Linked DNA regions of Homo sapiens: region 1 is linked to region 2. A link means that fine-mapping ties the variant in region 2 to the expression of a gene that starts in the linked region. Tissue or cell type: aorta. Region 2 holds a variant in brackets; the other region holds the start of a gene. All regions are shown on one strand. Distances are from middle to middle. Region 1 holds the start of EFCC1 (EF-hand and coiled-coil domain containing 1). Region 2 overlaps LINC01565 (long intergenic non-protein coding RNA 1565).

Region 1 (5,365 bases), 430 kb before region 2:
TGAATGGACAAATGGATGGATGGATGGGTGGGTGTGTGGGGTGGGTGAATGGATGGACAGATGGATGGATAAATGGATGGGTGGGCAGATGGTTGCAGAGCAAGCAATGGAGCAGACTTATAACTTAAGAAATGGAGAACTGACAAAGGAATGAAAGAATACATGAATAAACGCATGGAGAAACTGCGGAACACGAGAGCGCGTGGGAGGGGGATTGCACACCCGAAGTTTGGGAAAATGGGAGCCGAATTGGGGAACTTGGGCCCAGGGCACGCGCCCCCGCTCACCTGTAGCGTTGCAGCTCCGCCTCCAGCCGCCGCACCCAGCGCTGCAAGCCGGGCACCTGTTGCGCCAGCGCCTCCAGCTCTCGCACGCGGTGCAGGCTGCGCAGCACCACCTGCCGGGCCTCCTCCGCGCGCCGCCGCACCTCGGCCTGGCCACGGCGCAGCCGCCCAGCGCGGGCCTCCGCCGCAGCCAGGGCGCCCTGCGCCTGACGCAGCTCCCGCACCGCAGCCTCCGGCCCGCCGTGCCCCATCTCGTGGGTGCTCGCCTGGCTCTTCCAGAGTCCGACCTGCGGGGACAGGGCAGCAGGGGCAGGGGGTAAGTGCCCCAGCCAGATGCACCAGACGAACGCCCGCCACGACGGCGGCCCCATGCCTCTGCACCCAGAAGCGCTTGAGCACGTTTCTTGCGCCGTCTGCTTCCGGGTGCCAGGCCCTTAGGTCCGGTGCGTCCAAGCTCCTTTAACCCTCGCCACATCCCCAGGGAGGCCCAAGCTCTGATTCCTCCTCATCCCCCACCCCCCAACGTTTTTTCACTGAAGGAAACTGAGACACGACGCCTGTATTCTGTTCCCTCTATAGTACCAACCTCGCGACTCTTCTCGGCCTACTGTATTGGCGGCGTTCAGCCTGCCGGGTGGCGGTTCCTCATCTCCTAGACTCCCCCCAGTGGCATTTCCAGCCCTCCCCGTGCCTGCTCACTAGAGGCTTTTGAGGGTGGTTTCTATCTGTCTTTACTGGTGTGTTCCCAGAGCCTAAAACAAACCTGGCACATAGTAGGTGCTCAATAAATACCAAGCATGAGAGATGCCGGAAGACCGTTCAGGCGCATCCCATGGCTCCCAGTACGTTACTTGGGATTCCACATCAGAGGAGTAGTTTCCCGCCTCCACCCTGGCTTCCATGCACACTGACACTGAAAACCACACCTTGCCACTTCCCTGCACTCTGCAGTGTCCTGAGCTAAGGCGGGGTCATATAATGTCAGTTTCTTCCTGGCCTGTTGTCGCCTGGGGTAGGGGCTGTTCCTTTCCTCCTCTGACCCCTGCGGCCCAGCACTGCCCTTGGTGCTCGGCTGGCACAGTGCTTAAGTGTTTGTCGACGGCTCCCAGATGCTAAGGCTGGGTCCCTATCTCACCCCATGGTTTCTTCTCAATAGCCCAGAGCGGGTCTGGTTCCCGCAGGCACTTGGTGGCCCGTGAGTGCCTGATCCACAGTGTGAGCCACATTGTCTGTTTCTCACTTGTCTCTGTTTCTCCCACAGGGAGCCCCATAAGTCTTTGCTGATTGACAGAAGGAGCTGTCAGTCTACCCCAGGAGGCAGGGATATCCCTAAAGGTGAGGACAGGGCCTTCTTCACACTTCTGTCTCCTAAACCTCCCAGAAGCCTGGCAGGAAGGAGAGAGAAAGATGCTTGTTGAAAGGGAATATGTGAGACTACCCAGACAGGTGCAATTCCTAGGTTAAAGGGGCAAGACGCGATGATGTGGCGGTGGAGCAGAAAAGTGGGGTATGGTTGTTTGAGTGTGATTGGGGTTTTCAGGAATGGAATAGGTGGTAAGAATAGGGTTGGGGACTGGAGTGGAATGGGGAGGAACAGGGGCAAGATGCAAGTGTGCTGATGCGGAGTGGGATGGTGTGGGGCTGCCCTCTGTCTCCCCTTCCTCTGACTCTGTCCTGTCGGGCTCCGCAGCCAGCCAGCTTTTAGTTCGAGCCCTCTCCCGGGCGTTACCACCCTCCCTTCGTGGCCGGCGCGCACCTGCAGTGCTAGGCAGCGCGCATCACTGCTCTGCAGCGCGGCGCGCAGGTCCTCCACCAACTCGCGCAAGCTGCTATTCTCCTCCTCCAGCCGCGCAACGCGCTCACAGTCAGGACCGCTGTCGGGGCCAGGCGCGCAGGGCGGGCGGCGGCGGCGGCGCGGACGGCGCAGGCGGATCTGCGTCTCGATGTGCTCGCTGAGAGCGCCGCGGGGCAGCCGGGGCCCCGCACGGGTGCCGAAGTAGCCACAGAGGCGCGCGTGGAACTGGCGGAAGGTGAGCTCCGGCGGCTCGGCGCGCAGCGCCAGGCGCGCCTCTTCATCGGTATCTGAGTCCCCGTCCGTGGCCAACTCAGCGGCCGCATCCCCGGGGGTCACATCTCTGGAGTTCCCGTCACCTGCTGCCTGCCCGGCCGTGGTGGCCCCCTCCGCGCGCAGCCCCAGCACAGCGCAGAGCGCTCGGAAGTCGGCGCGGGGCAGACGGCCGGCGCCGCGGCAGTCCAGGTGGTGGAAGACCTCCTGCAGGTACTGGTCCAGGCCGGTGGCCAGCACCACGATCTCGTTCTCCACGCCGCGGTCCAGCCCGTAGTGGTGCGCCAGGGCGCTCAGCAGCCACTGCGTGCGCCGCGCAGGTCGCCGGTACGGGTCACCTCCCGCGCCCTCCATGCCGGCCTCCGCGCCCGTGCTGACCGGCTCCATCGCTGCGCCGCGCGCCTCGCTCCTCCGGTCCCTCCTCCGGTCCCTTCGCCCCGCCACTTCCAGGGGCGGCCCCAGAGTTTCTCGAAAGGAGGGGCTTAGCGGTCGCGGTCTGGTTGGAGCGGCGCCGGGGACCGTGTCCAGCAGCTGCGCTGGCCTCACAGTGCGTCTGGTTTACCCCAGTTGCTTTGGAGGGGCCTGGGGTAGGGGGTCCAGGAACCCCCGGGACCCCGGCAGCGCCACCAGTGCCCGGTCGGCGTCTGGGTCTGGCTTCTCCGCGTGACTCCCACGCTCTCCTCTCCTCACTCACGGGGCGTTCCTGGCGTCTGCGCTTTTCCTCCCACTCCCGGCCGTCCACTCTCAACTCCCTCCTCCCTCCGCCCCGCCCGCCTGGCGCGGAGAGTTCGCTCCGAGACCTGGGCGAGGGGTTGGCGCGGGATCCGAAGCCCAGGAGGGCCTTGGGGGTGGCGGCCTCGTCCGGTTGCTGGGGATGTGCCCCCACACCCAAGCGTCACTCTTCCCCCTCTTCCCGGAAGGCCTTTCGAGGGTTGCCTGGCAAGCCTGCTCTCGCCGCCCTGTAGCCGTAGGTGCGGAAAAGCCTCCCCTCCGCTTCAATTCAGCTACTGGGTTTCCGAACCCACTTCTTGTGCCACCATAGACCGTGCAAAGAGCCCCAAGTAGTAACTGGGAAAGAGAGGGAAACAGGCTTGGAGAGGCAAGGGGTCTAGGTTAGGGGCACCCCGCTGGTGAGAAGCCCATCTGAGACGAGCCCTGTGCTAACTGCTCTCTCCCGATCCCTGTTGGGGGTGGGGATAGGACTCTCGGGAAAGTGGTGTCTCCCGGCCCTGCCACCTTTGTGCCTGCCGGTGCTGACTTGGCAATGGGATCCGAGTTCCATCTCTTGAGCTGGGGTTAGGTTAACAGGTCGATGATTGGCTGATGTTTTTTTCTGGTGTTTTAGAACACATTTCTGGAAGATGAAGAAAAACCTGCTTCTCTGGTGAGTGCTAGACTGTGTTCCCTTTCTTTTTCACGAGAGGGGTGCAGTGATATTGTGATATTGTCCACCTGTTACCTGCACCGGGAACGGTTATCCAGCCACGGTACCCAGCCATGTTGGAGCAAGAGGCAGACTCTTCAGCTGTTCCTAGCTATGACAGAGACAGAATCTTGCCTTGTGGATAACTCTGTGAGTTTAAATGTAAAATCTTGCCGTTTGAAAAGCGATAGCATTCTGTCTCCTCTGCCACAGTATCCCAGAATCAGCACGTTGTCCATTTGGCAAATTCGTACTTGTTCTTGAAGGCTTTGCCCAGAGTACATATCTGCTGGGAAGGAGTTAGAGGCTTCTCCCCAAGCATTTTGGACATATTCTTTTAGGTTTGTTTTTAATTATAAAAGTAATGGCAATTTGACAAAGTTTTTACATCACGTCCACTTCTTGGCTTCTACCTTCGAAAGCCACTGTGCACAGGATGTTCACTGCATCATTGTTTATTACAGTGAGAAACTGGAGACAACCTGGTGTCCATCAAATCAGCTAGGACTCAGCAAACGAGGATGAGCGGACACAGCAAGCCACAAGCTGATTATGCACAACACTGATGCTTACATAACAAGAACAAAAACACACAAAACAATACTAAGTATTTTCTACTAGGACATGTGTATGTGAGTGCACAGAAGAAGATGGAGGGATTCATAAGTGGATTCAGTGGTTCTTTCTGCAGATGGGAGACACTGCAGTATTTCCCTTTTGTTAAGATGTTCTCATGTGTTTCTTTTTCTTGGCCGGTCGCGGTGGCTCACGCCTGTAATCCCACCACTTTGGGAGGCCGAGGCGGGTGGATTGCCTGAGGTCAAGAGTTCGAGAACAGCCTGGACAACATAGTGAACCACCCCCATCTCTACTAAAAATACCAAAAGTTAGCTGGGCGTGGTGGCAGGCGCCTGTAATCCCAGTTACTTGGGAGGCTGAGGCAGATGAATCGCTTGAACCTGGGAGGCGGAGGTTGCAGTAAGCTGAGATCCTGCCATTGCACTCCAGCCTGGGCGACAGAGCGAGACTCCGTCTCAAAAAAAAAAAAAAAAAAAAAAAAAGAACCTGATTTTATTTCATGTCAGCCCTAAGAGCTGGTAGCCCAGGCAAGAGTGCAACACCCTCCCCACCCCCCATCCCTGCAGCTGGTGAAGGAATCCTTTGAACAGTAGCTTTCCTGGGCCAGTCAATATTGAAAAGAAAGCTTTTAAATGTCTTGCTGGGAGCCGTTGCCGGCCTCCACTCCCCTACAGCTCAGGGAAGTAAGGGTTGATAATGGTTTGCTGTCAGGCCTGTCTGTCTGCCCTGCGGTGTTACCAGGCACCTCTGAAATAATTCTGGTTGCATCCACAAGGTTTTTGTTTAAGGTTCAAAGTGAGCAAACTCAGAGGTCTCCTTGCGTTCTTTTGTATGAGCTGGGGGGATGGGCGTGTGTCTGTGTGGGAGAGAGTCAGGGCTGTGGCAAAGAAATGATTTTCTGAAGTCAGTTCAGTATTGTTTGAGCCATTTCAAATAGTATATTGTTTAAAGTGTCTTTTAAAGGTCCGGGAAAATGCTAAAAAGCAAAAATCATCCACCATTCTGCCACCAAGA
Region 2 (5,365 bases):
GCCCTGAAATGCCAGAGGCTCCTGGGATGTGAGGTTCCTTCTGGATTTCTGAGGCTGATAACTGAATACTCTCGACTCGAATAGATGATGAGCTTGTGGAACATCGTGTGCATGTGCACGCCACCACGAAGTTAGTAATCAATCTTGCTTGCTGGGGCCATGTGTGTGTCCACATTTTGTCTTTTAATTTTTTTTGAGATGGAGTCTTGCTCTGTCACCCAGGCTGGAATGCAGTGGCATGATCTTGGCTCACTGAAACCTCTGCCTCCCGGTTCAAGCAATTCTCCTGCCTCAGCCTCCTGAGTAGCTGGGATTACAGGTATGCGCCTCCATGCCCAGCTAATTTTTGTATTTTTAGTAGAGATGGGGTTTCACCATGTTGGCCAGGCGGGTCTTGAACTACTGACCTCACGATCTGCTCACCTCAGTCTCCTAAAGTGCTGGGATTACAGGCATGAGCCACTGCGCCTGGCCTCTTGTCTTTTAATTTTATTTTGAGTTGGGGTCTCACTCTGCCACTCCGATTGGAGTGCAGTGGTGCTATCATAGCTCACTGCAGCCTCAACCTCCTGGGCTAAAGCAATCCTCCCACCTCAGCCTCCTGAGTAGCTGGGACTACAGGCATGCACTGCCATTCCTGGTTAGGTTTTAAACATTTTTGTAGAGATGGGGTCTTGCTACGTTGCCTGGGCTGGTCTGAAACTCCTGGGCTCAAGTGATCCTCCCACCTCGGCGTCCCAAATTGCTGGGATTACAGGCATGAGCCCCACACCCACCTCAATGTCTTTTAAAGTCATTAAAAGACAATTATTTTGTCTTTTTTTTTTTGAGACAGAGTCTCTCTCTGTCGCCCAGGCTGGAGTGCAGTGGCACGATCTCGGCTCACTGCAAGCTCCACCTCCCGGGTTCACGCCATTCTCCTGCCTCAGCCTCCTGAGTAGCTGGGACTACAGGCACCCGCCACCACAGCCGGCTAATTTTGTTTTTGTATTTTTAGTAGAGATGGGGTTTCACCGTGTTAGCCAGGATGTTCTCGATCTCCTGACCTCATGATCCGCCCGCCTTGGCCTCCCAAAGTGCTGGGATTACAGGCGTGATCCACTGCACCCGGCCTCATTTTGTCTTTTAATGAATAATGGACTAGCACAGCCTTAGAGAAGGAAAGAGCAGAGGTTCTATGTCCAGTCAGTGGGGAACTGGGAGATTCATTCCGAAAGGCTTTGAGGAGGAACCGGGCCCGGGTCACTCTTTGAAAGGGTGGCTCTCCCATTTTTCCTGCAGAAAATCTGAGCAGTGGGTGAGGCCGAGGGACTGCCCAGAGCCCCAGAGCACGGCAGTGGGCAAGCAGTCGTCCCTGTCCTGGGCATCCCTGTGGCCATGGAGCTCCTGGGTGAGCAGCTGCTCTGAGACAAGTCTGGTGAAGAATACAGCAGGACTCCTGAACATTCTTCCTTAAATGCTTATCTGTGGAAACCAGAACTGCCCTTGGCGCGTGGCTCGTGGACGTGCTGGGTGGCTGGGTGGGGCGGGTGCACGGGTGGAGCCTCAGCTCTGTTTCTTTCTCTGGGTAGTGTCCCCACTGCTGGGCTTCTCCCGCTCTCAGCTCTCTGGGGAGGTCCCCTGTGAAGGGCCTGTCTTTCCTGTCCCCTCCCTCGGATCATTAATGAACCACTCTCTCTCTCTTTTTCCTTTTCAGTGATTGGGCTGTCGGAATCAAAGAGGCCCTCCGGTGACTCAGGCGTTTCCCATTGCCCTATTCTAGCATCCTCTACTCTTAGCACTGAGAGTTTTTCACGTCCTATTTGGAACTGATAGGAAACCCTTTCATTGTTTCGCTACATGGATATTAGCACTGATGAAGGAAGCGCTCCATCAGATAGTGGTCCGCTGCAGTGAGCTGGTTTCCAGCACGAGCCTGCCTAGACTCAGCGTCTCCCGCCTCCAGGGACCCCCAGACTCTCAGCCCCTAGGCACCCTGGGCCAGGGTGGTTGGAAGCTTCTAGGCATTGTGGGGTCTCTGGCACCAGAGACACTCGGGGGTCTGGGGACCGAGTTTGGGCCCTGTACCCACCCACTACCATTTGACATGGTGAGAGAGAGAGAGAGAGATGACGAGCTCAGGCAGGGATGGCTTCTCCAGTGCCCACAATGTGCCAGGACTCTGCTGTGCCACTGTGGGCCTTTCCTCACCCCTCCCTCCCAGACATCAAGCTCTGGTTTCCAGCTGTGTTCCTTGAAGCCGTCGGGCTCTCTGGTGACAGCCACAGAGCCTCTGAGCAACTTTGCTTTCAGCTATTTTCCATGACCCAGTCCTGGGTAAGGCTTCATTTGAATGAAGGGTTCTGCTGCTAAAAAAAAAAAAAAAGTCGGAAAAACCACCTGATCACAACTTTCTAAGGCAGCTATTTTGTTTTGCAATGAGATATTTGCAGTGGTTTCACTAAAGCCTGATCTTCCCACTGGACTGTCGGCCTGTGAGGATGAGGACGTGTCTATCACAGTCAGTATGCCCTGAATGAATGGGTGTCACCCTCCTCCCCCTAGTGAGAGATAAGGACCTCAGGCTCAGAGAGGTTATGTGGTTTTCTCAAAGCCACACAGCAAGATTTGGCAGGTGAGCCTTACTTCTCTTCCTGGGCTAGCCTGCGGTCAGGGGCAAGGCTTTTGGATGATAAGAGTGAGGTGCAGTCAGCTCTAGATTGGGGGTGGCAGAGGGAAAAGGAGGGGGGGTTCCCAAAGCACCATTCTGCTTTCTGTGAGAAGGGATTTCCCCTCAACAACTTCTGTCCCATTTTTCAGAGCTAAAGTGACAAGCCACATCCAC[G/A]TCCCTGGTTAAAGGTGCTCCCCCTGCAGGAAACACATGTGCACTTGGGATGGAGCCCTCTGTGCGGGAGCGGCTTGCTCACCTCTCAGCCAGTGCCAGCTGGGTGGGTCTCTCCCAGCTCTCGAATCCTAACTGCAGCCACCATTTATTCAGCACCTGTTATGCACCAGGCACTTTATGTATCTTATTGCTAACCCTCAAAACAAGCCCTTCCCAACATAAGCGCTTTTGTGCCAAACCCATAGGTCTGAAACTGAGACCCAGAGAGGCTGAATGACATGCTCACAGTCACACAGCAGGCAGTGGCAGGCAGTAGTGAAGTCGGCTCTATGGATTGTATACCTGGGCTCCTCCAGGCCTCTGCGCTGCCCGGCCTGATACCCTAGCAGGTTGGGTATTCAGAGGTGCCTGGGGAGCTTGTTAAAAGTGTAGATTCCAGGCCTCCTTACCCTTAGAGACTGTGACTCAGTATCCGGGGCAGGGCCCAGGCATCTTCATTTTGACAGGCCGTCCCGGTGGCTGCCATGCGCAGGCAGGTTTTAGGAACATCATGGGTGGATGATTCCTGGTCTCCCCAGCCCTCTTGACCTGGCCACAGAGAGCTGCCTTTCCAGCGAGGTCAGCCGAGATGACGCTGCCGGGAGAGCAGTCTTCTCTGTAGTCCCCGGAGGGGACTCCTCGGAGGAAGGATGAGTCTGAGGGTTCCGGTTGTCTTGGCCTGAGACCACCCAAGGTCTTTTAACAGAAAAAAACTTTACCCATTCCCAGTGTTGATTTCATACCTTTATTTTATATATCTATTTTTATTGTGGTGAAATACATATAACAATAAAATTGCTGGGCGTGGTGGCTCACGCCTGTAATCCCAGCACTTTGGGAGGCCGAGGCGGGCGGATCACGAGGTCAGGAGATCCAGACAATCCTGGCCAACATGGTGAAACCCTGTCTCTACTAAAAATACAAAAAAATAGCCGGGTGTGGCTGCACACACCTGTAGTCCCAGCTACTCAGGAGGCTGAGGCAGGAGAATCGGTTGAACCTGGGAGGTGGAGGCAGCAGTGAGCCGAGATCGCACCACTGCATTCGAGCCTGGGCGAAAAAGTGAGACTCCATCTCAAACAAAACAAAACAAAACAAAACAAAACAAAACAATAAAATTTACCACCATAACCATTTTAAAGTATAGAGTTCATTGGCATGAGATACAATCATATTGCTGTGCAACACTCACCACTGTTCATCTCCAGAATGTTTTTCATTGTCCCAAACTGAAATTCTGCACCCATTAAACACTAACTCCCCATTCTCCCTCCTCCAGCCCCCGGCAACCACCTTCTACTTCTCTGTGTCTGTGAATGTGACTGCTGGGGATCTTATATGAATAGAATCATGCAGGACTTGACTTTGTGTGCCTGGCTTATTTCACTCAGCATCATGTCCTCCAGGTTCACCGATGTGGCAGCAGAGCTCAGAACCTCCTTCCTTTTTAAGGCTGTGTAATAGTCCATTGTGGGACAGGCTGCATTCATTTATCCATTCATCTGTAGATGGACACTTGAGTTTCTCCCACCTTTTGGCTATTGTGACTTTGGCTTATTTTAACATTATATAAAATGAGGCCAGGCATGGTAGCTCCTACCTGTAATCCCAGCACTTTGGGAGGCTGAGGTGGGAGGATTGCTTGAGCCTAGGAGGTTGAGGCTGCAGTAAGCTGAGACCAAGCCATTGCACTCCAGCCTGGGCCACAGAGCAAGACTCTGTCTCTAAAAAGTCAGCCAACCAATCAATCAATCGTTCAATCAATCTGTGCTCACCTAAAGCTAAACATTGGTACTGTCTACTCCTACAACAAGATGAAAATGAAAGATAAGTTAAATCCAACCAAAATTACAAGATGAATAAAATTCAAGTGAATGGTATTAGTCTATGCCAATGAATAATGCTGTCTTGCTTGAAACAGGAATGTGGTGCTGATGGGCTCAGTGCAGCTTCCGTGGAATCTGGCACATTCTGTAACCACTGTGACAACTCCCTTTTCCTCCTCCTTTTCTCTGTTTGAACTCCTGCAAAGCCTCAGTGTCTTAAAACACATCCAAGTGCCATTGCCCTTCTCTTGTCATGAATGCGTCCTTTCTATCTGACATCCACCTTTCTTTCCTTAGTATCCTGTGGCCATTAAAGTCGCACCGAATGGCTCTCAGGCCATGACCAAACTGAACATTGGGACTGGAATTTTGCAGGTGCAAATAATCATGGAAAATGACTTCCTAAAGTTAAAAACTCTTGGTGAACTAGCAGTCTGGAGACCATGCCCATTGGCCCCAGCTGCAGAGGCGGTGGTCCAACCTCCTCTTCAGGTTGCTTCCACCTGCCTGTGTAGTTCTCTGCTGTCTGAAGTTACTCTCTGGTCGCCCTGGTTATCAGGAGGCTTCAAGGCTGTGCTGGCTGACTGCAGATAGCATCTCAATCTATTTCCAAATCCGAGTCCCCACGAGGCACCTGTCGGGTTCTTCTCCACTTCTATTTATTTATTTATTTAAA

The links. PIP is the estimated chance that this variant, and not a neighbour inherited with it, causes the effect. A credible set is the group of variants that fine-mapping cannot tell apart.
Region 1: it holds the start of EFCC1, and the variant in region 2 is the best candidate, but not a certain one, in a credible set for the expression of EFCC1 in aorta (GTEx, PIP 0.53).

The regions. Positions count from the first base shown.
Region 1 is chr3:128,999,000-129,004,364 of GRCh38, reverse strand. It overlaps EFCC1 (EF-hand and coiled-coil domain containing 1), which reads right to left and starts at 3,061. Exons shown (of 8, transcript NM_001377500.1): 1 at 2,041-3,061; 2 at 288-571. The coding sequence starts at 2,736. It also overlaps a transcript of CFAP92 not described here.
Region 2 is chr3:128,570,220-128,575,584 of GRCh38, reverse strand. LINC01565 (long intergenic non-protein coding RNA 1565) reads left to right here. Exons shown (of 3, transcript NR_125802.1): 2 at 199-319; 3 at 1,282-3,585. Among named protein-coding and RNA genes, the nearest start is that of LINC01565, 3.2 kb to the left of the region's middle. The variant G/A (reference allele first, on the strand shown) is at 2,825.